Regions from separate parts of the Homo sapiens genome. Here region 1 is linked to region 2. Evidence: fine-mapped expression QTL. A gene starts in region 2. The other region holds a variant in brackets. All regions are shown on one strand. Distances are between the middles of the regions.

What was found.
Region 1: its variant is fine-mapped to the expression of RGS17 in thyroid (GTEx, PIP above 0.99).

What each region holds. Positions count from the first base shown.
Region 1 is chr6:153,223,016-153,239,120 of GRCh38, forward strand. No RefSeq gene overlaps it. Among named protein-coding and RNA genes, the nearest start is that of RGS17, 100 kb to the left of the region's middle. The variant T/C (reference allele first, on the strand shown) is at 7,508.
Region 2 is chr6:153,123,283-153,139,387 of GRCh38, forward strand. It overlaps RGS17 (regulator of G protein signaling 17), which reads right to left and starts at 8,000. Exons shown (of 5, transcript NM_012419.5): 1 at 7,842-8,000. RefSeq lists a silencer at 7,882-7,931.

The DNA.
Region 1 (16,105 bases), 100 kb after region 2:
CTGGAACTTCAGTTTCCATTGACACAAGGTAGCTATTGACAGAAGTGCTTAGAATAAATTACTTTACATTCAATATAAAATCAATAGATATAATGGGATAGCCTTAGAAAACTCACAAAAGTGGTGCATTCTGGGTTTTTTTTCTTCCATATATACTTTTTTGGGAAGAAAGATAAGTGGACTATTTTTAACTTCAGAAATAAACTCCAATTATCATAATCAGATGACCAAGTAATGGAAACTGCTAAGTCCCTTCTCAGTCTTGCAGTTCGACACTCAATAAGAGATTGCAAAGTGCTGAAAGTTTCATTAGAGTCAGTCAATGCACATCAATGAGGCTTCCACCCAAAGAAAGAGGACTCTGAAAGCAACCAGCTATACAGTGAAGGCAGCCATGGATAATTCACAGAACTTTGATGTTGTTTATAAACAAAAACTAGAAACGGTGTCACAGTAGTTTTCTACTTACAGAAAGATAAATCAACAGATGAGAGCAGCAGGAAAACCAACAGAGTGGGTCAGATGGAGACATCCTGTAACGTAAAAGATAAAGATTATAGCAGAGAAGGGATATCCTGTAGAAAACATTTAGAAGATGGCCTTTTTTCTATCAACTAAATTCAGAAAAATATAAACTATGTGGCATGAGAAACAAAAGACAAGATAAAACAAAAAGATGAAAGAGGAGCTAAGAGGCATATACAAAATTAACAGAAAAGTGAGTGAAGTGAAAAAGATGTGTTTAAATTAATACACTTACAGAGTTTCCATATACACCTTGTCATGCACGGAATTGTGTGACCCCAAAGTTCATATGTTGAGGCTCTAACCTCAGATATGACTGTATTTAGGGATAGTGTCTTGAAGGAGGTAATAAAGGCCCCCTTGAATGAGGTCATAGGGTGGATCCTAATCCAAAAGACTGGTGTCCTTGTAAGAATAGGAAGAGATACCAGGAGTGAGCACACACAGAAGAGAGGCCATGGGAGGACACAGAGAGAAGGTGGTGTCTACAAGCCGAGGAGAGAGGCTGCACCAGAAACCAACCCTGCCAGCAGTTTGATCTTGGACTTCAGCCTCCAGAACTGTGAGAAAATAAACTTCTGTTGTTTAGGTCCCCCCAGCATTTTAATACGATACAGCCCTAGTAGACCAATACACACCTCAAGCAGTGACAGGCAGAACTGAAACTGGAGAAAGTTAAAAGACTAATATGGAGTCTGGGTGTGGTGGCTCATGCCTGTAATCCCAGCACTTTGGGAGGCCGAGGTGGGCGGATCACCTGAGGTCAGGAGTTCAAGATCAGCCTGGCCAACACGGTGAAACCCCGTCTCTACTAAAAATACAAAAATTAGCTGAGCGTTGTGGCACATGCCTGTAGTCCCAGCTACTTGGGAGGCTGAGGCAGAAGAATTGCTTGAATCCAGGAGGTGGAGGTTGCAGTGAGCAGAGATTGCACCACTGTACTCCAGCCTAGGCAACAGAGCAGGATTCTGCCTGGAAAAAAAAAAAAATAGACTATACTGAAGAATCATAACTTCAGAATCTTTTTCAGAATGTGGAGAAAAATAAAAACCAATTGACAGAAGGGAGCAGGGAGATGTAAGACTTGGGAGACAGAGAATAGGGATTCAACTTATAGGTATTGGGTATATTTTTTATAGGAAAAATATAACAAAAAAATTTTAAAGGACTTAAAGGATTCGTTTAAACCACAAATATTACAAATAAAAATGGATCCTTATAAGCAAACATATTTAATTATAAGAGACCAATACTTTCATGTAGCCTGATAGTATTATACAATTTCAAGATTAAGAAAAGAATCTTGTGGTTCCCAAACTGTGTGCCAAGATGTCTGGGGGTATTACCATAAACTGACACAATGGGATATTTTCAGTTTTTGAGAGAAACAGAGGAATACAGGACATCTTTTGTATATGTGTAAATTAGCTTAAGGTAGTTCATAAATTTGATTGTACTTCATTTCTTTCTATGATGTCACGTTTTTGCGAAACTGGATTTTTGATGGGTGTTTTGATAAAAAAGCACATCCTATATGAAAATCGATGTGTAACAAGAAATGAGGCTGGAGGTGTTCAATCTGATTTCAAGATTTGAGAAGTTATGGCTGTGATCAGTAGGCACATATGCTTTCATTAATGTGTAATTGTGGTTATTGAATAGTTTAAGCGTGGTTATTAAGTAATATTAAATTATTTAAGGGTGCCACGAACCGAGGAAGTTTGGGAACCTCCAATTAAGCAGAAGGGCATTTGAGCAGGAAAAAAAAGAGAATACAAAATATTTCTTATAAAAATAATAAAACTTAGCTTGTCTTAGTCTTATCCCACAAAAGTAAACCCCAGATGGCTAAAGAAGTTTCTATTAATATATAGGCAAATTAATCTCATTTTTTTTCAGTTTTTTTTTTGGTGAGAGCATGTTCATGGTATACATTTTCTTAGTTCTGAATGTCTGCTATTACCTTTTCGATAAAAAGAATTACTGAAAGATATTAAAAGAAGAGGTGTTTAAACTAAACAAGAAATACATCAAAATTACTAAGCTGTAGGTGAGATTATAATATAAATTTATCTAAGGCATTTATATATATATATATATATATATATATATATATATATATATATATGGTTTCAAATCCATTTAAAGGACAAATAAGCTATTTAAAAAGAAGACAAAACGTTTAAAATACCTTTTTCTTTTGAGACAGGGCGGAGTGCAGTTTTATGATTTCACCTCACTGCAACCTCCGCTTCTGCCTCCCGGGCTCAAGCAATGGTCCTTCCACCTCAGCCTTCTGTGTAGCTGGGACTACAGGCATGTGCCATACACCACCATCCTGGGATAAATTTTGTCTTTTTTGTAGAGACGGAGTTTTGATATGTTGCCCAGGCTGGTCTCGTACTCCTGAGATCAAGGGAATCGCTCACCTTGGCCTCTCAAAGTGCTGGGATTACAGGTGTGAGGCACCGTGCCTAGACTTAAAATACATTTTAATAATAAAAATGTATGTCTACAACACTACTTTTTCAGATGATGTATGCTAATATGATCAACACAAATATTTTATCTGTTAAATTTCAATTAAAATCTCTTTTTTCATGCTTTCTTGAGAGAATACCATGTGCCAAGTAAGTACTTATGAGGTGTTGGACCAATTTCCTAATGTGTAAAGATTTCTTATGACATTTTATTTACTCTCTAGGTTATTTAGAGAATAAATGTTTAGAAGTTATAAAAGAGTAATTTTTAATCCTGTTTATATATGATGATAAATTGAAAGGAAAAGAACCCAAGAGAATGTGATTTTATTTGATTTTTGAGATTTCAAAACATAATATGTAGGAAAATATGTAGTAAAACATCTGACTTTCATACTTTTTATGTTGAGTTTAGTAATAGAAATTTATGAAATAAAAATATTAAGAAAAGTACAAGCAAAAATTAATATTCTTCCTAGCTAATTTAAAATGCTGGACATTTTTATAATATGCATTTTAATGATTTCATAAATAGCAAATTGTAACAAGTTAGGCATATGCACTTGGCTTTTATTTATATATTACTCACTTATCAAACTATTTTTTTAGATTTCTAGGATGTTATTGAGGTAGGAGAATGGGGTCTGGAGACAGGGAGCCTAAGGCAAACCTGCAGCTGACTTCTTGGAATTGGACTGAGAGGAAAACCCTACCTCTCGATGCCCAAGTGACAAGAGGTCAGAGGCCCTTCCCTCTACAAAACCCCTTCCCCCCATGTCAGAAACAGGAAATGCCTCTGATTGGTCTGGGCCAAGCCTTCACTTCAGCCTCTGATCGGTCATGGACCAAGCCTTTATTTGCATAGGGTGTAACCAATTGGAGGCCTCTAAAAGGTACCTAAGGGTGTTACCAAATTATTTTAGTCTAATAAAAACCCCAAAGAACAGTGCAATCAGGGCCCTTGAACTGCTTGCTGTAGCCCATTCCCACTCTGTAGAGTGTACTTTTGCTTCAATAAATCTGTGCTTTCCTTGCTTCGCTCTTTGTTGCTTTGTTTGTGCATTTTGTTTAATTTTTCGTTCAACAAGCCAAGAACCTGAACAACTCGCAGCCAGGACTTTCCATCTATCTTTCAACCAACGTTATCTATCTTTCAACCAAAAAAGTACCATGAGCTAAAATAAATTAGTCCTAAATACACAGATTTGTTTTAAATTCAACAACATAAATGTCAAAAATTATCCCAAAAACCTATACAAGTAAAATATTAAGATAATAATAAAAATAGGGCTTTACTCAATTATGTTTTGGAAATAGGCAGAAGTGAAATAATTTTTGCAGGTGTAGATTCTGTTTTCAGGTTTGAGATTAATATGGTCTTGCTTATATTAGAGGAATGTTCATATCCTCATCAGAGCCTTTCCCACAAATCCCTGATTGGTTTAAGAACAGTAGGAGTTTGCGTTTAGTAGGGTTTTGCAATATGCTGGGGACGAGAGCCCTTGATACTGCCCCTCTTAAACTGCAGGCGTGAGTGCATTTCTGGCACCTACCACGTGGTTCTTTGAAAAAGCAAGATCCCTGGGAATATACATCTCAAATTCCTTTCTAAAATATGACAGGTTAGTGAAGTTCATTTTCATGATCAATGTCTTGCTAATGTTTTGAGATTTTATGGACAAAGAAAAATTTACAGATGTATATGTATTTTGCTGCCAGTAAATGAACCACTTTTAAAACAGTACTCCTTTGAGTTTTTTATTGGTCTGAAACACATGCAAATAGTTAATATATTAATATTTTATATACCAGTGCTTTTCAAACTTTAATGTGCCTAAGAATGACTTAAGGATTTGTTAAAATGTAGATTCTAGTTCAGAGATCTAGATTCTGCTGTTCCAGGGACTTTGAATAGCAAGGATGAGAGCGATGACCAAATTCAAGTGTAACTGAAAATGAAGACTTGGAAATGAAGAGCCTTATGAACCAATATGAGAGTTTTTAACTCTATTTTGAAAGCTAAAGGAATTTGATCTGTCATGACCATATTTTTATTTTAGAGAAATCACTCTGGAAGTTGTTTGAGTATGTATTGGAGGGGAATTGGACTAGAGCCAGAGAAACTACCTAGTAGACAAAAAGTAATCTAGTTACCCAGGTACAGCCCGATTAAAGGCTGCAGGTCCAAGGACCACAGAGAGCCAATCTATAGATGACACTAAACTTGACAAAAATATAGTGCCAGTTAAGCCAGACTTTCACTTATGGCCTTAGGTAACTGATGAAAAGTAAAATGATCCTGCTTCTTGCAACATCGGCTATAGATTTGAGCACAAAATAGGACACCATGTCTTGTTTCTCCTAACGTATGTCTTGTTGATTTTTGTTGGAGGTAGAGGTGAATACTATAAGGGGCAACTTAGACCTCGTATTTGACCACAAGACCAGCCAACTGAAGCCTCTTGAAGTTTGAAGTTTCTTTTTACCATCTGTTTCCTTCTAAACTGGAATAATGCAGGAGGTAGTATGGTAACATGGAAGTGAACTGTACTTTACCATCTAAATATACCTCCTGAGATACGGCATAGTTCATGAAATTGATGTAGTGAAAAAAGCCACTTTTAGTATATCCAAGTAAAGTATCTAGATGCCCAGTAAATACTAGTGACTAATGTTATCTGGTAATGAATGAAGAAGACTTTGAAGTAAAACAGAATTCCAAATAAGTAAAAATGCAATGTTCTATCACTAAACATGATCAGTCCTTTATTTTGGACATAAAGAATATGCTAGACATATTCTAGCTGGGTTCAGTATGCCAACAAAAAATGGAGGTTGAACCAACTGTTTAGAGAGTATTTGTTTGAAAAGGGCCTAAGTAATGGCCTTGTATTTTCACTCATATGTATATAACTGTAGGTGGGATTTTGAATACATTTACAAGAAATTAAACAATAAAAGAAATCAGATAATGGAAAAGGGAAAGTGTTCATTATAACTCCCTTTATCTGGAGAGTCTTATCTAACACATATAAGTAGGAGTGTCAAGGAAATACTTTTATTTGAATAGACATTTTTGAATTAACTCTGGATGTTTTTCTCTTCCTGGTAGTCTGATTCCTCCTCTTGCACTCTTTCCACTATTTTTAGTGCTAGTGAAGAATAGGCTGGGGTGTCTGTGTGTGTGTGTGTGTGTGTGTGTGTGTGTGTGAATGATTCTGAGGTAGGAGAAGGTTCTGATGTACGGGAAGTTGTTATCCCTCAGGAAGAGAATGTAGACATCTTTCATGGGAAAAACAGAAGAGTGAAGGAAATCCATACAGCTGATATTAAAGGGCTATACTTAGTTTCACATTTAGGGATTTGCGGGGGGAGATCACTTCGCAGTGTGCAATAGTGCAGCCATAGTAATTGAGAAGTGGTGATAGTGCATTCAGACAGAAAAAGAGCAGAAGTTGAGCTCCTCCATGCATGTTCTGTCTAAGCTCCCATGTGGCCCAGAAGGCATTTAGAAATTCCCAGGGGGGTAGGGAAAGAAGATGAGTTTGGAAATTTCAGACCTATTATTGGGCTTCTACAGAAAGGGGCAGTGTGACCTTAGGACAGAAACAAAGGTTCAGGGCCTAGACAGAAGCCACACTGAGAATATGGCCAAGATCATGGTGGGCTGAGTCAGGAAGGGGACACTATGCTCTGAGCTTACTGAAAAGAACAGACCACTAGATTCACCAACTCTTGACTTCAGAAGTGGGTGTCAGCAGGCACCAGCAAGCAGAAAGGAAAATGCCATTGTGTTGCAAGGGCGAGAGGGCACTCAGAACATAGGACAGTATCTTGCACATGGCTCCAAGGGCCTTGCCCCCTTCTGCCATGATTATGTATAAGGATTCCCATATCCAAGTACCATCTGGAGTTGGAACTTAATATAAGGTGTCATTACTTTAAGAAAATGGTTACGTCTTAAAAGTAACCATGCCTTACATTGTTTTAAATAAAGAAAGAATTGGTTATAATTTCTTTGCGCTTTACTTGATTAAAAGCTAAACAAATGTGACATTTTACCTTTCAATTTAAGCAGTGTTAGTTTTCTAACCTTGGAATTTAAAAAAAAATTCAATTTAAATTCAAACTGCTCATTACAGAAAGTTAAGAATGATCTTCTCTAGCACAGTAGTCAGTATTTTATCATTATTATGCCTATCTTACATGGTAATGAAAGTTGTCGAGCTTGTGAAATAGGATATAATGACTAGGGATATTAAAATTGATCATATTTCTCAAATTCATTAACAATTAGATTCTTGACAATGCCTTTAATTATTTTCCTTCTGTAGCATGTTGGCTTGGGTAGTTTTTACATCATGGAGGGCATAAAATGTTTTAACATGTTTCAGGAGAAAGTGGTTTGCTTGTAATTTGTATCTTCCTCCATGTGTACAACTTTAATTTTGACATGGATATGGTCCAAAGATACATGAGAAGGGTGGACAAATGATTCACTT[T/C]TAGAGGTTTATAAGACTACTCCTTAGTTCACTGGAAAAACTCATTTGCTAAATGGACCCTCACTGCTCTGTGAGATGTTTACTTTGCTCTTATGTAAGTTCAGACTGCTTCGTTCTTCTAGCATTAACTTAGTTTTGGCTATTTCTTCTTATCCCTTTTCATGGTATATAAATGCTCAGCAGACACTTAAAATCATGTGAAAGACAAACCAAACTACTTTTATTTTAAAGCTAATTTTCTGAGTGTAATTTTCTTATCTGTGAAATAAGAGTTGCACCATAGAAAAATATTTTTTTAAAAAAATGAATGAAGCAAATCTGATCACTTTAATCTCTTTGTTGTTTAAGGTTAACATTCCCCTAAACACCCTGAAATGTAAAAGAAATTTTAAACAAATTGAGGGTACTCTCTATATTTCCTTAATTAGTATATTTTTGGAAAGAGTATGCTGTATACTGTTTTTGTTCAAAATCTTTTCCTCAGATAAATAATAGGGACATTGAATAGAAATAAAATGATGCAGAGGGTAAAAGGCTATTGTGAGACTTTGCTTTCTTTCAACAATTAATATATATGTTTTCACATTCAGTTGCGTTTGGTGATTACAACAGAGAATTCCTTGAAAATCGCAGAAAGATCAGTACCTGTCACATGCTAAATGTGGTATAAATTATGCCAGCTGCGTTTCTAGGCGCCAACACCAGACGGCGCTAAAACACTGCAGTTAGTTGCCTGCCTGCCAGTCGAGGTGATGTTCACACTTCGTTCTACGCACAACGCGTGTTCTGTACATATTGCTAAACTGAGGGATGGGCAGAGAAGGGCAAACTGTAACTACAGTTTATTTTAGCTCATGTTTAAATACAGGATATACTCTGTTTTCCTTCTGTACAGGAGAGGGAACTCTTCACAGGTGAGCTCAAGAATGCATTTCATTACCCTTTGTCTCTTGTTCTTGTTGGCAAAAATCAGTGGTTAGGTGCCTGAGTGTGAGCAAAGAAATAACTGGCTATATCCGTCTAAATTAATCACTAGTAAGGAAAATTAGGGAAGTTACAGGAAGTAAAGACCCTCAGGCAAAGGCTCAGGGATAATTTAGAAAGAACTAGAAGGGTGCATGGTGGGAGTGTAGTGAAGAAGCAAACTTGATTTTTGAAAACCCAGAAAAATATAAGAACTAGTTTTCTTCTTTTTCCCTGATGCTATTGCCTTTCAAAACGATGAAATAGTAAATGGTAAATTTTGAGATTGCATGTTATAGTCAATGCAAAAGTTTTTAAGAAAAGCAGATATACTTGCTGCTTCTTGAGTTAGAATATAGAATGAGAGATCTAACACAGCAGTGGCTGTGTTATAGATAGAAAATGTGATGGAAAGCAGTTGCAAAGCTGGGCATAATTCCATAAAATTTTTCTTTTTTTAAGATATATTTGCTAGTAAGGCAGTATACACACAACAGAGCACTTCAGTTTCAAATTATGTTAAAACATCTATGAAGTAGTCAGCAGTATCATAGATTTTTTGCTTCTGCCATTCAATGAGGCCCTGTCATTGACAGAGCTTGGTGACTACCAATTGTTGATGTTGATGGGCTATGCTGGGGCTCTCAGGAGAGCTGGGGTCTCTGTTCTCTGAGGTTTTCTAAAATTCTGAGATCATATGGTTTCATAACAATGAAAATCACTTGATAGCAGCAATGGAGTTGTCGTTATGAATACCGATTTGTTTAACTGTTAGTTGTGAACACCTAGGAATGAATTTGCTTCTTAATGGCCATATTATATTGGACATTCTCAGAAAAAAAGGTTTTTAATGAAGAAAATAAAAACCAAATTTCAAAATATACTACAATTATATTTTCTATTCATTAGACAAAATAAGAGAAAATGAAAAAACCATAAATTGATGACTTTAAAACTAAAAATAGGTTATTTATTCTTAAACAAGAATTTATTTCTTCTTTAAGAAATATAATAGCTGAGAACCTCAAAAGAAACCTACACCTAAGGAATGATGTGAAGTAATAGGTACCTATGACTTCTAAACTTATTGTGTATGAATTTATTCACATCTATCATCATTTATACAAAAAACACTTAAAATTTCACAATCTCTCCTGTTCCCACAATTTATAACAGAAAAAAATGAGGAAAACAATTAATAGGAAAAATTACTGTTAGACAATACAATACAATACAATACAATACAATACAATACAATACAATACAATACAATGCAATGCAATGCAATACAGTACAATGCATGCTTCTGCAAATTTTGTAGAGAACATATGTGATGACAGCACAGCAGTTAACTTTTGTTAAGATTAAAACAGTCGTGGTGCGGTGGCTCACACCTGTAATCCCGGCACTTTGGGAGGCCGAGGTGGGTGGATCACCTGAGGTCAGGAGTTCGAGACCAGCCTGGCCAACATGGTGAAACCTCATCTCTACTCAAAACACAAAAATCAGCCAGATGTGGTGGTGGGCGCCTGTAATTCCAGCTACTCGAGAGGCTGAGGCAGGAGAATTGCTTGAAACCGGGAGACCGAGGTTGCAGTGAGGCCAAGATTGTGTAACTGCACTCCAGACTGGGTGACAGAGAAAGACTCTGTCTCGGAAAAAAAAAAAAAAGATTAAAACAACACAATTGTGATTTTGCGATTTGATAGTGAAGAGAGATTTTCAAATTTATTCCTCAGTTTTTTCTGAAAATGAAAATGTTGTATAACCACTTAACAATTTACCTATTTTCAGGAAATAATATTCGATAAAACGTTATACCATCACTGATAGGAAGGAAAAAAAGCATTCTTAATTTGTTTTTTGTTAGTTGACTTGTTTTTTTTTGGCGGGGGGCACAATTTCTTATGACAAGACTTTGAAAAGATCAAGATCTTCAAGATGGCTTCAAACTTATCAACTTGTAGGTATTCTTGTAAATATAAAGAGAAATGTGAAAGTAATATGCTTCAATAATCAAATTAAATTAGCACAATTGCAATTTTTGTTTGAATCAAGATGGCTTAATAGTTTTATGAGGCTACACATTATGGAGAATATATTTTACTCTCCTAAGCCAAGAGAAAACTTCAGGACCAACTAAAGTGTACCCAAATATGCATTTATCATATTTTATTTGTCTATATTACTCTTCAATATAATGGTTTTATGATGTAGAATATCTTGATATTTTATACCTTTATCAGAACCTTTATACATGAACACAAACTGTATACCTACATCTTTAGATTTTGGTACTAAGACAAAGGGGTCAGTTACAAGTGTCTGAGAGTTGTTTGGTTGGTAAAACTTCTAGAAGATAGTGAGTTCTGAGAAAATCATGGTAACAGAAAGTAAAACTTGCACATGTGGTGTTGTGAAGAAAGAAATTGAAATGGCAGTTACCACTTAGGTAAAAGGCTAATAAACCCGATTTTAGAAGACATGAATATCTGCATTTTAGGATTCTTTTCTTGGTTTGAATAAGTGATTCGAGAATCCCAACTGGACTGTCAGAATGGATGTTAACTAAATAGAAAAGGATTCTTGAGAAAAAATGGATAATGTAACACACAGTACAAATTTGAAAAACAACAAACATTTGTGATGAAATGCAAAGAAACTGGAGCTCCTGGCTGGGCGCAGTGGCTCACGCCTGTAATCCCAGCACTTTGGGAGGCTGAGGTGGGTGGATCACCTGAGGTCAGGAGTTTGAGACCATCCTGACCAACATAAAGGAACCCCGTCTCTACTAAAAATACAAAAAATTAGCTGGGCATGGTGGTGCATGCCTGTAGTGCCAGCTACTAGGGAGGCTGAGGTAGGAGGATCACTTGAACCTGGGAGGCAGAGGTTGTGGTGAGCTGAGATTGTGCCATTGCACTCCAGCCTGGGCAATGAGAGCAAAACTCTGTCTCAAAAAAAAGAAAGAGAGAGAGAGAGAGGGAAAGAAAGAAAGGAAGGAGGGAGGGAGGGAAGGAGGGAGGAAGGGAGGGAAGAAAGAAAAGGAAGGAAGGAAGGGAGGGAGGGAGGGAGGGAAAAGAAAAGGAAGGAAGGGAGGGAGAGAGAGAGAGAGAGAGGGAGAGAGAGAGGAAGAAAGGAAGAAAGAAAAAGAAAAAAGAAAGAAAGAAAGAAAGAAGGAAGGAAGGAAGGAATAAAGGAAGAAAGAAAGAAAAGGAGAAAGAAACTGGACCTTCCACCTCCTGGGTAGTTTGGAATTGCTCAGTCTAGCATCCGATTTTGTAACTCTGATAAGTCTGAAACAAATACATATATTGATGAAAAGTTGACGATAAATAAAGCTAAAATTATCATCACATCTCCAATAATCTTTTATAAGAGATGATACAACTGCATTCCTTTTGACTTTAGTTAACGACTTTTAGTGAAGCTCTTCAGTGACAGCTTGCATACAGAATCAAACATGTTAGAACTATAACATCCCCAGAGCAGGGTCAGAATGAAGCCTACAGTTGGGATAGAGTGCATGTTTTGCCTACCTGTTTAACACATTTAAAGAATGGGGTCATGATATATACTACATAAGTTCATCTCAACCCACTATGCTGCCTTCCAGATACTTCCACAAGCAACTTAAAATTATAAAATGAGTACACATACTCATTTTATGATTATGAAAAGAGTACTCATACTCATCTTACTCTTACTTATAAGAGTAAGAGTACCCTTACTCTTACAAAATGAGTACATGTACTCATTTTGTATATGTACCTGTACATATATAAGTTGCTTGTAGAAGTATCTGGAAGACACTTCCACTAAAAAGTAACAAGTCAGATTATTATAATTTACACAAGTTAAGTAATATACTGATATTAAATCATATTTTGCATTTTACTCATCTATGTTAAAATGTACTTAGTGTGTCCTTTATCAATTTTGATTAATTTGCAAACTTTAACATATTATATTCTAATTAAAGTTCATTTAATTTATTATATTCTCCAGTTGCGTTTTTTTTTTTTTTTTGGTTAGCACACAACACTTAAAACCGTTAATCCTTAGGGTTTTGGTTAATTAATACTATCTTATTAATGAGTTTTGAGTACTTATTAACCAGGAGAAAAAATAGTATCAGTCTTAGCATCTGAAGTCAGAAAAAATATAGTTAAAAAGGTTAAGATTTGTAATCTCTTTATTATTGGATTTATCCCGTAAGAAAATAATTTTGAATTTTCCTCTTTGGGAGACCGAGGCGAGTTGGTCACGAGGTCAGGCGTTTGAGACCAGCCTGGCCAACATAGTGAAACCGTCTCTACTAAAAACACAAAAATACCAAAAATTAGCTGGGCATGGTGGTGCCCACCTGTAATCTCAGCTATTCGGGAGGCGGAGCAGGAGAATCACTTGAACCTGAGAGGCGGAGGTTACAGTGAGCTGAGATCGTGCCACTGCACTCCAGCTTGGTGACAGTGGGAGACTGTGTCTCAAAAAAAAAAAAAAAAAGAATTTGCCCTTATTGTCTTACATTCTAATCACTACATAATGCTCCTTTTTTTTTTACACCAAAATCGGGTCACTCAGATCCTCAGCATGAAACTCTCAAATGGCTTCCCATCTCCATCAGAGTAAAATCCAAAGTTCTCACAGTCACCTACAAGGTATGGCGAGATCTCTGAGCACGCCCTGACAATATCTTCTCCTTTCTTCCTCATTCTCTCCACTATACCAACACTGGTTTCCTTGCATGCTCCTATATCCAGCACACTCTAGCCTCCCATCACTGCTAGGGAGCTCCCCTTCTCCAAAACATATCTTCCCTAGACACCCAGGCAGCTGATTACTTTGTGATCTTTCAGTCTTTGCTCAGCCTTTCTCAGTGAGACCTTTCCTGATCATCTTATATAGGAAGACTTCCTTCTCTATCCCCTCATCTGCTTTATTCATCTTCACAGAACTTATTTGTTTTCTTTACCCTTTCCTTCTTCAGGTCATAGAACTTATTGCCACCTGTGCTTTACATGTTCACGTTTCACTGATTATTTCCTTCAGTAGAGTGTAAACTTCAAACATTTTTCCATATATTATTAAAGTTATAACTTTAGTACTAGAATAGTGCCAGAGACACAGTGAATACTGAAAACATATTTATTAAGCATGGAAAGCTCCTAATTCTTTGAAAAATCATTTTAGCTATTCTAGTTTCTTTGCCTTTCCATATAAATTTTTAAATTATTGGGTGAATTGTGCTAATATTTTTGAGGAATCTTGTCTAAGATGTGAAATGTATGTGTGTCTACTTGTTTGTACTGTCTCCTTCCTATTCTTCTGATGTCTCCATAATCTGTAGTGATGCTTCCTGTTTCATTCCAGGTATTGATCATTTGTGTCTTCTTTTTCTTTTTTTTGCCAGATTTGCTAGAGAGTTGCCAATTTTATTGATCTTTTCAAAGAACCAGTTCTTTGTCACATTGATTTCCTTTGGATTTTCCCCAGAGTCGGGGGTGCTCCTCATTACTATTAAATGGGGGAATGGATAGGAATGGATATTCCACCTTCCCATGTGGTCTCTGCTGACACGTGGTAGGGGCAGTCTAGTTACCACTGGACAATGGTTATAGTTCTTACTTTCCATGAGGCCTCTTCTGATGCTACCCTAGCAAGGAGGAGCCTCAATATCCCCAGTGGGAATGGAAGTTTAGGCTTCCCACGTGGTCTGTAGTGACACCATGGAGAGGGCCTTATCTCCGGCCAGCAGGGTAGAAAGTCCTGGCTCACTGCTTGGTTTTCTCTGGCACTGATCCGGCAAAGGTGTTGAGGCCCCTCTTCATAGCTTCTTAAGGACGGACATCTCAGCTTTTTACTTGGTCTTTGCCAGCATAGGGGGGATGCAAAATATTTTTTTCATCATTGTCCAAAAATTTTCTGTCTTGCTAGGCTGCCCTTTTCCTGGTCCTGTGGTTAGAGAAAGCAGAGATTTTTCCAGTGTGTTTTTTCTTTGCACCTGTTTGTGTTTCCAGATCGCTTTTCATCAGCTCTACATCTGGGATATATGAAGCTGAAAGAAAATCTACAGAGCTCACAACTCTGTCATCTCTTGGATCCTGAGATTCTTGTCCTGTCCATCTTCCTCTCTACATCTTTGAGAGTCTTCTTGTGTTTGCTTTAAACATAATGTCCAGTTTTACTTAGTTGTACTTAGCAGGAGGAGTAGTTGTACTATATAGTTGTACTTAGCAGGAGGAGTAGAAGAAAATGTGTTTGTTCCGTGTTTCCCAAAGCACAAATCTGTCTCAAGCACACATTTGTAACTGGTTTGTTAGGGGAATTTGATGGTCTTATATCTCTACCTGACTGCTTCCGTGCCCCAGGAAAATTGCTGACAGGTGAAATATGTCTTGTACTTTATCAAAACAATCAAACCAACAAAAGCATGAAGAAAAACAAATTCTTTCCCTGAAAGAATCTCCCTCTCTTCATTTTCCCTGAACATGTAATTTGTAAGGGCACAACTCTTTTCAGAACGTCCAGTTTGTTTACTGAAAGAATTTTGTGCCTTTGTGTCTAGAGGCTGTGACTTCTCTCAAATCACAAATTTTGTTACAACTATTCTAGCCTAAATTAACCAGTCAGGATATAGAACGATACTGTAATACAACAGTTCTAAATTGGGGTCCATTTGACCTCTGAGGGGGCATTTAGCAATGCCTGGAGAAATTTTTGTTTTTCACAACTTAGAGTGCTACTAGCATCTGCTGGGCAAAGGCCAGGGATGCTGAAAACATCCCCGAACGCACAGTACATACTCGAATAATAACAAATTATCCTGTCCAGACAGTCAATCGTGCTAAGATCAACAAACCCTGCTGTAACAGGGTGTGTAACCCTTACTAGAGACACCAGTACCATTCTGCAAATAGTAGATGGAAATTGCTTTCTGAGAGGGCTACCTTAGGAGAGAGTGTAGCTTTCAATTTATAGGAGAGAATCAGTAGAGAAACTGTAGTCTGAGACAGTCGGAATTGAAAAAATGATTCTACGAGAGAAAGTGATAGCGTAATCTCACAGATCCATGAATAGCAATAGGCACAACCAGTGAGGTTGTGTACAAAAGAGGATTCTCCCACATTGCTAGTGGGAATGTAAATTTGTACAAACTCTGAAAAATTGCCAGAGAGTATCTAGTAAAGTTAACAATACACTTATCCTATGACCCAGAATTCAAAGCTTAAGAATAGAGCCTAGAAATCTTTGCACATTGGTACCAGGAGACTCATAAATAATTTACAGAGCAGCATTTTTCAAAATAGTTAAACATTGGGAAGAACAAAATTTTCCTCCACTGTAGAATATATGCTAAATTATGGTCCATTCGTGCATGTGAATGCTATAAAAAGGTGAAAATAAATGAATTACAGTTATATGTATCAACACTGAAAATTTCAAAAAAGCCTCAGCAAGAGAAATAAACCAGTATTCAAAAAATATGTACAGTATGATTCTATTTATAAGAAGTTCAGGCCAGGTGTGGTGGCTCACGCCTGTAATCCCAGCACTTTGGGAGGCTGAGGCAGGTGGATCACCTGAGGTCAGGAGTTCAAGACCAGCCTGGCCAGCATAATGAAACCCCGTCTC
Region 2 (16,105 bases):
TCAAATCTTACATTAGCATACATTTTTACTTATTAAGAGCCCGGTCAAAGATTTAATGACAAGAATGTTAAATGTAGTGGCTGACAGGAGTGCTGAGCTTACCTTCAAGTTAATTCATTCCTAATGTCAATGTCTTTCATTTCCATACTTAGATATATTAACTATCTATTCATCACATATTTCTAGAACGGGTTTGAAGTCTTCACTCTGATCTTATAAATCATACAAAATCTTTCCAGATCGGAGCAAATCTAACTGCTAGATTTAGAAATTGCCCTAGTGATTTTAACAAGTTGATATTGGAGATGGTTTTCTTTCTCAAACTTAAATGTATTTATTCTTCATCCAAACTGAGGATTCTGGGGTTTTGGTCAAGGTACTATATTATAAACAGATTGTAATCAAAGATGGAACTGCAGCAGTATCAGGAAAAAATTCTAAAATATTGCTAGTGCATGGGAAATGTGGACCCGGAAGAAGGGCAGGGATCTCACTCTCCTTCCCTTTTGTTCATCCCCTACACCAGCGTTTTAGAATATCTTACATTACAATGATTACGCAGGGTAGCCTACAAGTGAGAGGGGAAAAGGCATAGTACAGATGTATGTACACATTTTCTTTATTTCAATGAGAAGGAATTGGGTGTTGAGGTCGGTTCACAAAGAGGGTTAAGCCTCCAGTCTGTTGTTGTTCTGATACTATGGTGGAGGTTGTTAAATCATCCACCAACAGAGCCACTTCCTGCTTTTCTTCCCCTTATCTCTGAGTCTCTGCTTAGCAGCTTGCTTGAACATTAGTTGTAGAGGCTCCTAAATTTTGAGATCAATTGGTCTATTGCTAAACCCTAAGGAAATCATTGCCTATTACTCCCATGTTGTATTTAGCTATGACTTCAAAGCTTAGAATGACCAGTACTCACTAGATAAAAGAAAAATAACTTGAAGAAGCTTATATGTGAACTCCTTGTGGAAAGGGGCCACGTTTAATTAATCTTTGTATCCAAAAATATCACACAGCCTAGCACATAGTGGGTGCTCAAATATGTTTGTAAGCAGGTTGGTGAAACAAACTAGTCAGGAAAGGATAACACACGAAATACATGGAGAACAACCTAAACATTAATAAGGACCAATTAGTTAAGACAAATACTGGCACGAAATTAAAACCCCTTCAAGCCCTTATTGTTTACATGATGTTTCTTGTACCTATTTTGATTTATTAAGTCTAATACAATACCTAACACTTCCATACTGAGTACCAATATATGAAAGATTTTATAGACATAATTTCTTTTAATCCTTTAACATTTTTAAATTGTCTTCAGTTTTACAGATAATGATACTAAGGCTCAAAGAAGTGAAGGCTAAATCCCTGGTTATTTGAATCTAAAACCTGGGCTCTTTCCACCAAATTACATTCTCTGCTTTTAAAGTCTCCTTCTTTTAAGGGCAATTTTCCATAAGCTTTTTTACTTCATGTGAATTAAATAATATGGATTGCTGTGTTTCAAATAGCAAACTTTCAAATATTTGTTGAGTTTGATTAATCAAATCCTGAAAAAATAGGAGAGTTTAGGGTAATAGGACGTGGACATAGGGTCGTCTACCAAGAGCCAAAACTGACTCATAAAATCTGTAGATTACATGACTTATCATAAATACACCAAAATAACAGGCTCCCACCTTTCATAGAGACTGGAAAATAGAGAAAGTGACAACTTTCACAAGAGACTTCACTGGATTTAACTCACTATATTATTGGGAAGATTCAAGAAAATTTTTAAAATGAAATAAACACTCACCTGCTCATTCCATTTATGTCATAATTTCCCCCAGGTTGTGTCTGTTTTACTGTAATGCCATGGCTCTTGAATTATAACCTGTGTATTTCAACAGCCAATCAGCAGTACTGTACTGTGAAAAGCCTGTGACCCAAGATAAGGAAGTAAATATTTGCTTTGTGAACCACAATCATTGACTACAATAGAATTATATTTACTGACACAGGGAATTTTTAAAAATCTCACATACAAAGCTTAAGAAATTCAGTGATTTTAGATATTTATTAATCATGCTAGAATACTAAGTATAAAATACTTCTATAATTTCATGAAAAAGCCTGCATATCTAATAAATAGTAGAGTAAAAATTCAAATCCATTTCTATTTGAAATAGATTTTATTTTCCACCATAGGTCATTGCTTCTCCTATAGGGACCTCCCATCATTATAAATTCTGAATTACTCAGGTTTTACTGTATTTGATAAACTGGTACCACTGATGATTATAAAATTTTACACTTTCAGCTGGGCGCAGTGGCTCACGCCTGTAATCCAGCACTTTGGGAGGCTGAGGTGGGTGGATTGCTTGAGCCCAGGAGTTCAAGACAAGCAAAACCCCGACTCTACAAATAATACAAAAATTAGCTGGGCGTCGTGGTACACACCTGTAGTCCCAGCTCCTGAGGTGGCAAGATCACCTGAGCCCAGGGAGGTTGAGGCTACAGTGAGCCATGACTGAGCCACTGCACTCCAGCCTGGGTGACAGAGTGAGACCCTGCCTCAAAAAACAAAACAAAAACATTTATACTTTCTAGATAGTTTAATACCTAAGGACTTTATAGATTTTCCAAGCTAGATAATTAAACTTTTGAAACCAAATTTGTCAAAAGTTATAGAACTTAAAAAGTCAAAAACAGGAGCTTACAAGACCACTGAATCATGTGAAACATTGCAGATACAGAGCTCGTTAAGGTAACACATTAAATTCTTACTTTTAACATGTGTAAATTTCACCTAGAGCTTAGTAGTTGAAGTAAGGTATGATTCTAACCTGACATGGTTTTATAATTTAGCTTAACTGACTCATTCTGATGAGAAATCAAATGAATGTCCCTATGATCTCTATGTACTCCCATCTTTCCTTTCAACCCCTTTATCTCAGAAAAACTCAGAAGTTCTTCCATAACATTGGCAACTGGCAGAAACAATCCACGACTATCTGGGAACTCTTCAGACACAAGCTTCTCATAGTAAGGTGTTTGTGAGCAAATTGTTTACTGATTCCGGACTTCTAAAAAGAAGTGTAAAGGTTGGAAAACTCAGGGGTGTAGCAGTATATGATGAACCCCAATGCCCTGGCTGATCCAGCTTTTCTGGTTTAGCCACAGTGATCTTTGTCACTGAGCATTTCCTTTCCTTGTTTGCTTCTGCCTTTTAAAAAATTAATATTAGCACTCAAACAAATAAGAAAAATGTACCAGAACAGCAGTGGAAACACAGGCTAAAGACTTGAACGAGCCATCCTCAAAGACAAAAACTGCTTATCAGTATGTCAAAAAGTAATCAGTCTTATTGGTAGCCAAAGAAATAAAAGTTTGAAAAATATTATTTTCACCTATCAAGTTAGCAAAGATTTTTTAAAGAATGGCATTATGTTGGCAAGAACTAGCTGTTCTAAGCATCGTGCCCAAAGGAGAAACTGCAATAGAGATACGCATACAAAATTTAGGCATGAGGATCAAAATCCAAAGATAAAAGAATGGCTAAATAAAGACATTCATAAGGTGAACTATATCACTAAATCGCATTAAAAATATCAATTTTAATTTCTTGAGAAACAGCAACAAAGGAATGTTAATTTTTTTAGAAATATGAAGTTCTAAAACAGCCATCCCAACCTTTTTGGCACCAGGGACCGGTTTCATGGAAGACAATTTTTCCACGGATGGCAGTGGGGGTGGGGGAATAGTTCTGGAATGAAACTGTTCCACGTCAGCTCATCAGGCATTAGATTCTCATAAGGAGTGCACAACCTCAATTCCTTGCATGCGCAGCTCACAATAGGGGTCACGCTCCTATGAGAATCTAATGCCAGCCGCTGATCAGACAGGAGGAGGAGCTCAGGAGGTAATGCTCACTTACCAGCCACTCACCTCCTGCTGTGCTGCTGGCTTCCCAACAAGTCATGGGCTGGTACCCGTCTGCAGCTCAGGGGTTGGGGACCCCTGTTCTAGAATATGATTCAAATTCTTAAAACAATGGTACGTTTATATAAAGCAAATAAACTTGTGGTAAACCATGCTGTGTTTTCAATAGCAGTTCTTTAGGTATTGAGATAATTATAAGCACTCAGTACATGCCAAGCACTATGTTCAGTACTTTATATACATTGCATTGTATTTATGCTTGCATCCTGCCTTCATCCCTCTTGTATGTCTGAGGAAACTGAGGCTCAGGACAGATTAGTAACTTGCCTACAGCAATAAAGTTTTTAAAGGGAGGAGCCACAATACAAGCTAAAGCCAGCTTGACCCAAAATTCATGCTCTTCACATCCATATCTGCCTATAGGTAATTTTGTATCGTAGGGGATCTAAGATAAGCAAATATAGAGCTTTTATAATTGGGAAACAAATCAGTAATATAAATGTTGTATTAAACACATATATATTCCCAAAACGACAATTCTGAAAATTGCTTCCTCCAAAGATGTAGGACCATAAACACGAGTTTTAGGAGCCCAACTAGTGTACTTGGTAAACAGTGTAAGTGCTGATTTTAAAAATGCAATTCTTACCTTGGAAGACTTTTGCGAGCCATGTCGACCCTGCAAAATTTATTAATTTAGGAAAAATTATTTTACACCTGCCTTTGCCACATACTGTGCCAGGTGCTGGCACAATAGCAGGAATGATCGTCTAAATGAATTTCTTTGGAAGTTAGGAAAGTGTCTTTTTTTCAGAGATAAGTGTGGGTAGGGAGAGAAGGAAGGTGGGAGTATCCATCAATCTCACACTGAAAGTCTTGGCTACCTATTGGCTACCTATAGCAAAGGATTATTTTAAGGTTTTCCATAAAAATATATTTGTCTGAGGACCCTTGACACTCCCTTGGAAATGTCATATAATTTTACGCCTCCACAATGCATTCACACTTACACTCTAACTATACCAATCAGGTGAAATAAAATGCTTTTAACATCACATAGCATTATTCTCAACCTCTGGGTATATAGCGGTCCTTCGATTTGCCCTCTTTGGTAGTGCAGTATTCTCAGTGTTAAGTAAGCAGAGTTGGAGAGTATCAGAAACAGGATTCTCAGCAGAAATGTGGTTGAATGGACTCCCAGCCCTCTTGGCATCGTACCTCATCATCCATGCCTACCTTCCTTTTCCAGGAAAGCCCATGTATTTTAGCAAACGGACTTCTGACACAAAGGCCATTATCTCTACGGCTTTAGATTAAAAGGTAAAATCTTTCTTAGACTTTACTCTGCAAGTCAACCAGAATTTTGATCAATTCAGATTTAAAATTTTCACTTTTACTTGGCTGTTACAGTAAGATCAAACGGGTAAGAATATATATTTCTCCTTTTCTTCAAAGACCGTGGCCCTCGTGGTAGGAAATGTTAAGGAAGGTTTATTATTATTATTATTTATTATTATGCAAAAGTATAAAATGGTCACAGGAATAAGGAACTTAGACCTTAAACATGATGAATTCAAATAAATAAGTACCTCAGAGGAAGAGCCCTACAACCAAAGAGATACCTATTTGAGAAGGAAATGCTGTTTGCCTTAGAATGAACAGGATAGTAAATTAACTCTCCTTGTTAATTCCCTTCCGTGGGGACTAAACGCCAAGGAGTAGTTGCGGAACTATAGCAAAAAGGGTCGAAATCAATCAGCATAACAGACACCTTATGTTATTTGTTCTGTAAATTCGACGGTTTTCTTAATCGTTCAGACTAATTTCAGGAGGAAGGATGAGTGCCCCTGGCTCTGAGATCACGTGTCATTGCCATGGAGATTTATCTTATTTAATAAGTAATACCACTCAATCTTTTTGTAATAACGAACACTTCTTTTCTTGTTACCTCAAACTAAATAAACTACTCTCCTATGGTGGCTCTAAGTGCGGGTTTCAAAAGACTATAAAAACTAGTGAATAAATCCAGTCTCCCATGAGTGTGCTAATTACTGTTTTAGTTCATGTTAACAGAAGAAATGGCTTAACAACAGTAACAACTGGAGGAGGTCAAACTTCTCATTCATTTGTATTAAATCACCCTTCCATTAGATAGGAGTGCTATAATGCATATTTCTTGGATAATACTCTCACTACAGAAGACTTCGGAAACAAGTACAATGTACTTTAAATGTTTCACGGTTTGCAAATTATTTCGTACACGCAGCGTCTGGCAGTTGTGAATCGAGGAGGAAAGCATTATTTTCCACTACACTAATAAAAATCAATTCTCACGTCTTCAATTAAATGATTTTCAGAAGGGTTCATCACCCGGAAAACCAGTATGTATGAACGCCGGAAATGCAGATGGCACCCAGCCTCAGAACTGCTTATTCTAGATGGGAACCAAACTAAGATTTCTCTTTATTATTTGTGAAAGCCATCCCACGCTGGAGAGAATCTCGCCGTAAAACAATTTAAGAAAAGAAAGAAATAACTCTGAAGAGTGTGAAGTTCTCCAGACAAATCTTATAGTGAATCTTTTGAAAGAAGCATTTATGGAAAGGTCAGGGGAGGTCAGGAGAGTTATGCCAGGAGCCAGGGTCAATCGTCCCCGGGCGACAGGGGTTCTCCCACGTGAACCGACGTCCCGGGCTCCGGGCGAGGCGCAGGGCTCAGGGCGCAGGGCGGGTCCCGTACGCAGGGCGGGCGCGCGGGCATCTTTGTGGCCAGGCGACCCCGGCTCGCTCTCCCGGAGCCCAGGGACTCCCGAGGCTGGCGCGGGCTGCCCGCGACAAGGTGCCAGCAGCCTCGGGCTCGCGAGGAGCAGCTCCCACCCGCGGCTTCCGAGTCCAGCTCTGTCCCTCCGCCATCCCCTAGTCCTCCGGCATTTATTCAGGGAGACAGGGAGGCAGAGAGAAGAGGAGAAAGCGGCCGTGTCTGCACCCAGCCTCTGCCGCAGCACTCGATGAGGGACAGCAGGGAGGCTGGCGGGGAGGCAGAGATTAAACTATGATTCCATCGATCACGGAAAGACCACCATCACCTACAGCAAAGGAGGCTCCGATGCGCCCACCCGGGCAGCGACTCGCGGTTGGTGGGCGTTCCTCGTCCTCGCCCCCTCGGTGGCTGTGGAATCCACCCCGCGCCGCACACGCCAGGACTCCCTTTCCTTTGACTAAGGGGAGGGGAAGGAACAAAAGAGACCCCCCACCCCCTATACATACATACACATACACACACACACACACACACACACACCCCTCCGGTATTTTACTGCTGGTCAAAGGATTCATTTTCGCAACCTCTTCTTCGAACACCTTCCCCACCTGAGCAGTGCATTTTCCCAAAGGTAAAGAGAGATAAGGGAGGAAACACAGCACCCAAGGTGATCAGTCGATTGGACACTGTTGATGGCACATTCTCCTCGTTCCCAACCAACCGCACAAAACCCGCAACACCTCGCGTCCCCGCGGGGTCTCCCGCGCCCCTGGCCCGGCCCTCCCGGCCGCCCCCAGCAGGCGCCCCGCTCTCCGCGGGAACTCTGGGACCTGGCCGAGCGTTCCCCGGCGGGCAGGACACTCGCCCGGTTCCCTGCAGCAGCTGAGGGCGGCGAGCGGACCGCGTCCAGGCAGCGACGCGGGATTCAACTTCCCGGACCCGCGGCGCGGCCCCCGCTCCCGCTCAGGGCGCCGCGGCCACAGCTGAGACCCCAGCGCCGCGCAGCCGCCCCCGCCGGGGCATGGGCGGTCGCGCTCTCCGCCCCCTCCTTCCTTCACCTCCCCCCTACCTTGAAAAAAATCCATCCATTGGTGCAAAGCAGACATTTTGATGTCATTTACTTAGCACCGCTTGTTTTGGAGGCAGCGTCTTACCCGGTCGCCTGGAGGTGTGGGCAGCGCGCCGATGGGTCCGGGGGAGCGGGGCTGGGCGGCTCGGTCCTCTAGCGGAGCCGGTTTGCTGCCATCCGCCCAACTTCAGCACCCAGCGGGCGAGGAGAGAGGGAGAGCGGCGAGGATGCAGAGGAGGGGGAGGGGGAGGAGGGAGCGGTGGGCGGGGAGGGAGCGAGAGCCGCTCGGCAGCGCGCATGCGCCTCGCGGGCCGGCGCAGCCCCTCGCCCGGCGCGGCCGGAGGGGCAGCTTCCCAGCCCCTGCGCGCGGCCGCGAGAGTCCCGGCCCCGCCCCCTCCCCGGGCGGCCCCCGGCCCCGCCCGACCTCGCGCGCTCGCCTGGGCGCGGCGCCCACCGTGCGGAGGGGCTCGGCCGGGACTCTCGGCTTCGGTGACGCCCGTCCGGAGCTTCGCGGGAGGCCCGGAGTCCCGAGAGCTTCCCTGGGTGACAGCGGCTCTCCGCCCGGGCCCCTGCAACTCCACTCGCCCGTAGCCCGCGCGCTGCTGTCCTGGGCTGCGCGGGAGCCTTGCACCCAGGAGCCGGCCTGCCAGGCACAGCAGCCTGCCTGCTCCGGGTCCCGGAGGAAGCATTCCCTGCGTGGGGGTTCAAGGAAGTGTGAAGTTAAGCAAGTTTTGCTTCCCGAAGGACTTTATGAAGCGTCCTTTACTTTATTGACTTCCTCGCCCAGAAAGAGGACCTTTTCTCCTAAGAATCAGTGCAGGTGCTCTCTGGCCTAGCCCATGCCAGCTGCCTCAGGCGCCCGGACCACTCGCTGGAGCAGAGTTTTGAGTGAGAAAAGCCGATGACAAGGCAAGAGTGGAGAATTATTAACGGAGGTGCTGATGCTTGGGGCCTAGAGCATCCTTAGGGGACAGCTTGGTAGTTACCAGGTCTGATAATCGTTCTGTGCCCAAGTGGAGCCCAGCTTGGTAGGGAAGGAGCTTGGGATACTTAATGCAACCCGAGCGCTAGATTGCATCTCCAATGATTAGACTAAAGTGTTTGTGCGGAGGAAGTGGAGAAGCAGTGTCTTGCTCTTCAGATACCACATCTGTGGGAAGAGGAGGGAGTTCCTGCAGGAGTGAATGGGCTTTTTTTTCTTACACCTAATTAAAACAGATTACTTGTAAATCTGTGTGAGTTCCCCTTCCTTGTGTGTTCATGTAAGCAAGCGTTGTGTTATTTCAGCCTACTGAACTCTCCTGTGCCTCCATCCTCATAGACTCACGGGTACTTGGGTTAAATATGTCTCAGGGCCTCCTCCAGGGCCTCCCATGGCTTTGAGTACTAGTGCTCTTCAAAGTGTCTTCATTTTTGTTGGATTTCACAGAAGTATTTGTCTTTGTCTTCCAGGCTGCTATAACAAAATACCATAGACTGGATGGCTTATAAACAACAGAAACTGATTTCTTACAGTTCTGGAGACTGGGAAGTCCAAGATCAAGATGTAGGCAGATACCTTATTTGGTGAGGGCCCAATTCCGAGCTCATGAACTGCTGACTCCTTGCTGTGTCTTCACGTGGTGGAAGTGAGCAAGGGAGCTCTCTGGGGTCTCTTTTATAAGGACACTAGTCCCATTCATGAGGGCTCCACCCTCATGACCTAACCACCTTCCAAGGGTTCCACCTCTTTATATCATCATCTTGAGGGTTAGAATGCGAACATACGAATTTTGGAGAGACAAACACGGCTAGTCCACTGCAGTATTGATTCGCGGTGGATAAAGATAAAAGTTCTTCACCAAAAATGATTTGAGCAGCGTTGAATCCTATATAACTTTCAGATTTATGTCTTCAGTCCTGTCCTGGCCTCACACAGAACTCTTATGTCCTTCACTACCTTTACATCTCCACTTGAGGAATAATTGTCGTAGCTGGTATTTATTGAACAATTACTACATGCTAGGTACAGATCTAAATTCTCCTCATATTTCGTATTCGTTGTTCACAACAACCCTACAAGGTAGATACTATTATTATCATGGTTAACAGGCATCTCAGAAGCGGAACTCCGGATATCCACCCCCTCCAAACCTGTTCCTCCTCAAATTGTTCTACTCTGTTGTTCATTCCAAAAATTTAGAAGTCATCCTCGTTTTGTTGCTTTCTTTCATCCCCGCACTCAATTAATTAGTCATGTTTTCTTCACCTCCAAAATATATTTCCAAGGTATCTACTTTGCTCCCTCTCTACTGCCATAACCTTAGTCCAAGCTATTGTCATCTCTCACCTGGGCAACCACAAAAGCCCCTATTCTGTCTGCTCATTTCTATCCTCCACAACCCCGAACAACACCCTCCTAATGAGAGGTGACAGCGTGCCGGCAGTCCTCACAGCCCTCGCTCGCTCTGGGCGCCTCCTCTGCCTGGACTCCCGCTTTGGCGGCACTTGAGGAGCCCTTCAGCCCACCGCTGCACTGTGGGAGCCCCTTTCTGGGCTGGCCAAGGCCAGAGCCGGCTCCCTCAGCTTGCAAGGAGGTGTGGAGGGGGAGGCGCGAGCGGGAACCGGGGCTGCGCGCGGCGCTTGCGGGCCAGCTGGAGTTCCGGGTGGGCGTGGGCTTGGCGGGCCCCGCACTCGGAGCAGCCGGCAGGCCCTGCCGACCCCGGGCAATGAGGGGTTTAGCACCCGGGCCAGCGGCTGCGGAGGGTGTACTGGGTCACCCAGCAGTGCCAGCCCACCGGCGCTGCGCTCGATTTCTCACCGGGCCTTAGCTGCCTTCCCGCGGGGCAGGGCTCGGGATCTGCAGCCTGCCATGCCTGAGCCTCCCACCCCCTCCATGGGCTCCCCTGCGGCCGGAGCCTCCCCGACGAGCGCCACCCCCTGCTCCACGGCACCCAGTCCCATCGACCACCCAGGGGTTGAGGAGTGTAGGCGCAGGGCGCGGGACTGGCAGGCAGCTCCACCTGCAGCCCCAGTACGGGATCCACTGGGTGAAGCCAGCTGGGCTCCTGAGTCTGCTGGGGACGTGGAGAACCTTTATGTCTAGCTCAGGGATTGTAATACACCAATCGGCGCTCTGTATCTAGCTCAAGGTTTGTAAACACACCAATCAGCACCCTGTGTCTAGCTCAGGGTTTGTGAATGCACCAATTGACACTCTGTATCTAGCTACTCTGGTGGGGCCTTGGAGAACCTTTGTGTCTAGCTAAGGGATTGTAAACGCACCAATCAGCGCCCTGTCAAAACAGACCACTCGGCTCTACCAATCAGCAGGATGAGGGTGGGGCCAGATAAGAGGAGAAAAGCAGGCTGCTGGAGCCAGCAGTGGTAATCCACTCCGGTCTGCTTCCACACTGTGGAAGCTTTGTTCTTTTGCTCTTTGCAATAAATCTTGCTACTTGCTCACTCTTTGGGTCCACGCTGATTTTATGAGCTGTAACACTCACCGCGAAGGTCTGCAGCTTCACTCCTGAAACCAGCGAGACCACGAGCCCACCCGGAGGAACGAACAACTCCAGACGCGCTGACTTAAGAGCTGTAACACTCACCGCGAAGGTCTGCAGCTTCACTCCTGAGCCAGCAAGACCACGAACCCCCCAGAAGGAAGAAACTCCGAACACATCCGAACATCAGAAGGAACAAACTCCAGACGCGCTACCTTAAGAGCTGTAACACTCACCGTGAGGGTCCGTGGCTTCATTCTTGAAGTCAGTGAGACCAAGAACCCACCAATTCCGGACACACTAAGAGCTGAAGGATCTTTTAAAAACAATCAGAGGCCGGGCGCGGTGGCTCACGCCTGTAATCCCAGTACTTTGGGAGGCCAAGGCAGGTGGATCACGAGGTCAGGAGATCGAGACCATCCTGGCTAATACAGTGAAACCCTGTCTCTACTCATACAAAAAATTAGGCGGGCATGGTGGCGGGCGCCTATAGTCGCAGCTACTCGGGAGGTTGAGGCAGGAACATGGCGTGAACCCGGGAGGCGGAGTTTGCAGTGAGCCGAGATGGCGCCACGGCACTCCAGCCTGGGCGACTGAGTGAGACTCTGTCTCAAAAAATATAAAAATAAAAAATAAATAAAAACAATCAGGTTGTGTCATACCCTTTCTTAACACGCTCAAATGAGTTTTTTTTTTCATTGCACTTCAAACACAATTTGTAATTCTTAAGACAGCCTGGAAGGTTCTATATAGTATTGTCCCTAACTAGTTATCTTATACCACGCTTCTGTAGATCATAGCTAGTGTGTTTTAGCCATGTAGACCTGCTTATTTGGGTTTCTTGAAGAAATCTAACTTGTAATATTTGCTGTTCTTTCTGTTGGGAATCCTGTGCACCAGATCTTTGCATAGCAGACTCCTTAATATCACATAAGTGCCTCCGGAAATATCACTTTTCAGAAGGCTTCATCTGACCACCCAATCTAATCTGCCCCAGCGAGTTCTTTTCTGTTGGATCCCCTTATTTCATTGTCTTTAAAACACTTCACTATCTGAATCAGCTTGGATTCATTTGTTTGCTTATTCATTCTCCTCAGCCCCTGCTAAAGTAAAGAATCTCAAGAGCTTTGCTTTCACTTTTCAGTGTTTTATCTCTAGTGCCCAGAACAAGATTTGACACATAGTATATGCTTAGTGAATGAAGGATGGATTGAAAAAATAACAAACTTAGAAAAAGTGTTCTTTATTGTTTGCTGATGCTTCTTCTTGGATCCTAATTGCCGCCTTTCAGAATCTGTTGCTTTTCAGAAGTGAACAGATAGACCACGTTGTTTCCTCTGCCCAACCTATCACAGATGGTGCCATGATAGACTACACTGTTTCCTCTGCCTAGCTCACCACACATGGCTGCATGCAGGGGTGCTCCTTTAAACTAGATGATAGGGTAAGGTTCCCAGAACCCACTTTTAAAACAAGCATATTCAATAAAAAAGGGACCCTTCCATAAATTCTTATAATGGCTATTTGGGCAATTTTTATATGACAACTTGGCTATTCTGCTATTCATTTAATTGCTTAAGCCAAATGTAACCCCTTGGTGACTTTCTTTCATGGTTGTAGTTTTTTGTGTAATCCCTTATGCATGAGCCAGAATCTGTAATAATAGTATTCTAGGACTGAAAATGTTGCCTACCATCTGAGAGTTGACTAGATGGGTGGAAACAACCACAGCTTTAATGACATTCACCTTGTGGAGTCTGATCACTTGCAGTCCCTGTGTATATCTTGGTGGTATGGTTTGAGTTTGTTCCCTCCAAAACTCGTATTGAAATTTGATCCCCAACTTGGTGGTGTTGGGAAGTGGGGCCTAGCAGGAGGTGTTTGGGTGCTGACGGTGGATCCCTCATGAATGGCTTGGTGCAGTTCTCCAGGTAGTGAGTGAATTCTCACTTGGAGGAGACTGGAAAAGTTCTCATGGGAATAAACAAGTTCCCTAGAGGGGAGATTCTTACAAAACCAGGATGCTCCTCAGGCCTTGTCTCTTTGCATGTGTCCACTTCCCCTTTGACCTTCTTTGCCCTGTTGTGATGCAGCCTAGAAGCCCTCAGTGGAAGGCAGGGCCAGGCCCTTGAATTTCCCAGCCTGTGGAACTGTGACCTAAATAAACCCGATTACTCAGTCTCAGGTATTCTGTTGCAGCAACACGAAACAGACCAGGACACTTGGTCTAGGGAGTTATCTGCAACCCCACTGACATCAAGTGATGACCAGATCAATAATTCAATTCAGTAAACTTCATTAATATCTACTATATGCCTAGTATTATGTCTTCAAATTTTTTGCAAAAAATGTAAATGTTATATAAAATTATCCTACAGGACTCAGAAATGGATTTCAGTTCATTTTGGCAATGGGGATGCCTTCTCTTTATACAGAATTTCAGAGCTCACTGGGCCAGTCATCATTAAACAGCTATGTGGTAATTATGAAAAGGAGCATTTGATCATGAGCATTTCCCTACCATAATGAATGTGTTTTTTTTTCAAGTAGAGAAATTCTGGACACAGCAGCAGTTTAGGTATAATGGCTTTACAGTAAGGCACGAAGGAGATTTGCAGAGAAGATATTTGCAGACAGAAAATATTGCAAAAGTGCAGACTATCAACATCAAAGTATTTAGTGTACATTTATCCATAATTAGGAATATTTGTCATTATTAGGAGAGCTGGAAATTACCTCAGTGAGTTTGGTACCCTACAAAAGTATTTCCAGGAAGAAACTATGTAGCATTTTAAAATTTCATTCTCTTTTCCTACATGCTTATTTATTTAAAAGAAGCTGTTTTTCCTTTGAAAAGCAGAGGGAAAGGAAATTAATTGTTTGCTTGAATCTAGAAAACCCTGACTGCTCCAGCCAGGCAAACTTCTCCAGAGTGGAATGTGGAAGGATAATTAGAACATGACTGCTTCAGCAGACTTCTTCTATACTTTTAGTAAATAGAGCTAAACATGTTTCTCCAACTGATTTTAATCAAACCATTGAGACAGGTTCATCCCAGGGAACTTATTTAGATGGGAAATACTTGTGTTTCTTCATCAGTATTCAAAGAAGAGAAGAGAAAAGAGAAAAAGGAAAGATAGTCTGTTCCCCAAAAGCTAAAAAATGAAATATAGAATTTTATATTTTCTATGTAATGTACTTAATTATGTTTTTCTGTTTTTTCTTTTACTTTTTTTTTTTTTTTTTGAGAAGTAGTTTCACTCTTGTTGCCCAGGCTGGAGTGCAATGGCACGATCTTGGCTCACTGCAACGTCTGCCTCCCGGGTTCAAGCAATTCTGCCTCAGCCTCCCGAGTAGCTGGGATTACAGGAGTGCACCACCACGCCTGGCTAATTTTGTATTTTTGTGGAGACACGGTTTCTCCACGTTGGTCAGGCAGGTCTCGAATTCCTGACTTCAGGTGTTCTGCCCACCTCAGCCTCTGAAAGTGCTGGGATTATAGATGTGAGCCACTGTGCCCGGCCTGTACTTAATTTTGAATAAATCATTAGCTATTAATGTTCCTTTGTTTAACTTACCAACTTTGAAGTTAAAAGGCTCACTATTACTCTTTCAGAATAGTGCTAGTAAATTTATATCTCAAGGTAATTGAGTGAGTCCCTAGAAATAGATATAAACATCTTTATGGGATTTTAAAAATCATTTATGCCCAATTTTGTATATCATATATTCCCACAATATTCCCACAATGGCTTGACAATGTAGAGTTGGTTTGGGGTCACCCTAAATACTTCATAAAAGTATTCTTTAGATGGACCCTGCATATTCCCATTCAGCAAACCTATCATATCTATCATATTGTTGGATAACAGTCTTCCTTGGAAAATAAAGCAAAATTATCTTATCTAGAGAACATGACAATGTTTAATTGTTGTAGTCAGATTTGCCTAGTATTTCAAATATCTGTTTTAGTCAAGAGAGTCAAATAATTTGGAAAAAGGGGATTCACAAGTATCAGGGCCATAGTTCTTGAAGAACCCCCACACTGTTGTTTTCCCTCCAAAATTAGTACTTTGAGAACAATGTATTCACTTGGTGAATAAGCTTGGGTAATAAAAAGTTGACTTCTAAATTCATTTCTTAGGATTTGATACATACATTGGCATATTAACATCTCTGAAAAGCCCCTTGATCAAAAAAAGGCACAATGCCTTCTAAATACACACAAATTCTCTCTCTCTCTCTCTCTCACACACACACAGACACACACACACACACCACATACACACAACACACAATAGAACCAGAACTCAACCCCTTGCTTTCTACAGACCTTGATTCAAAATATCACCTTGTCAGCGAGGTCTTCTTTGTAACCCTACATATAATTCCTAACCCCTTCTAGCTTACATGCACACATACATAGATATATACACATATGCATATATATGTGGTATCAAGGATCTCAATTTTATTGACAGTGTAATCTAAAATTAAAATTAACTTCAGTCATAGTCAGAATCTGCTCTACACAGATGTGTACTACACCTCTAGTTTTCTTAATTCATTCAGCCAATATACGCTGAGCATTTATTATGTGGCTGTTTGGCAGGCTCTGTCCCAGGTACTGAGAATACAGCAAGGAACAAAAACAAACAAAAGTCTCTGCCCATACAGGGCTTATATTCTAAAGAGGTAGACAGACAAAGATCAATGTAAATAAGAAAAAAATATAGAATTTGACAATTATAAATGCTAAAGGAAAAAAGCAGGTCAGGAAAAGGGGATAGGAAGTATGTATGCATGTGAGTAGGAAGGGGTTATGAATTACATGTAGGGGTGCAAAAAAGACCTCACTGAGAAGGTG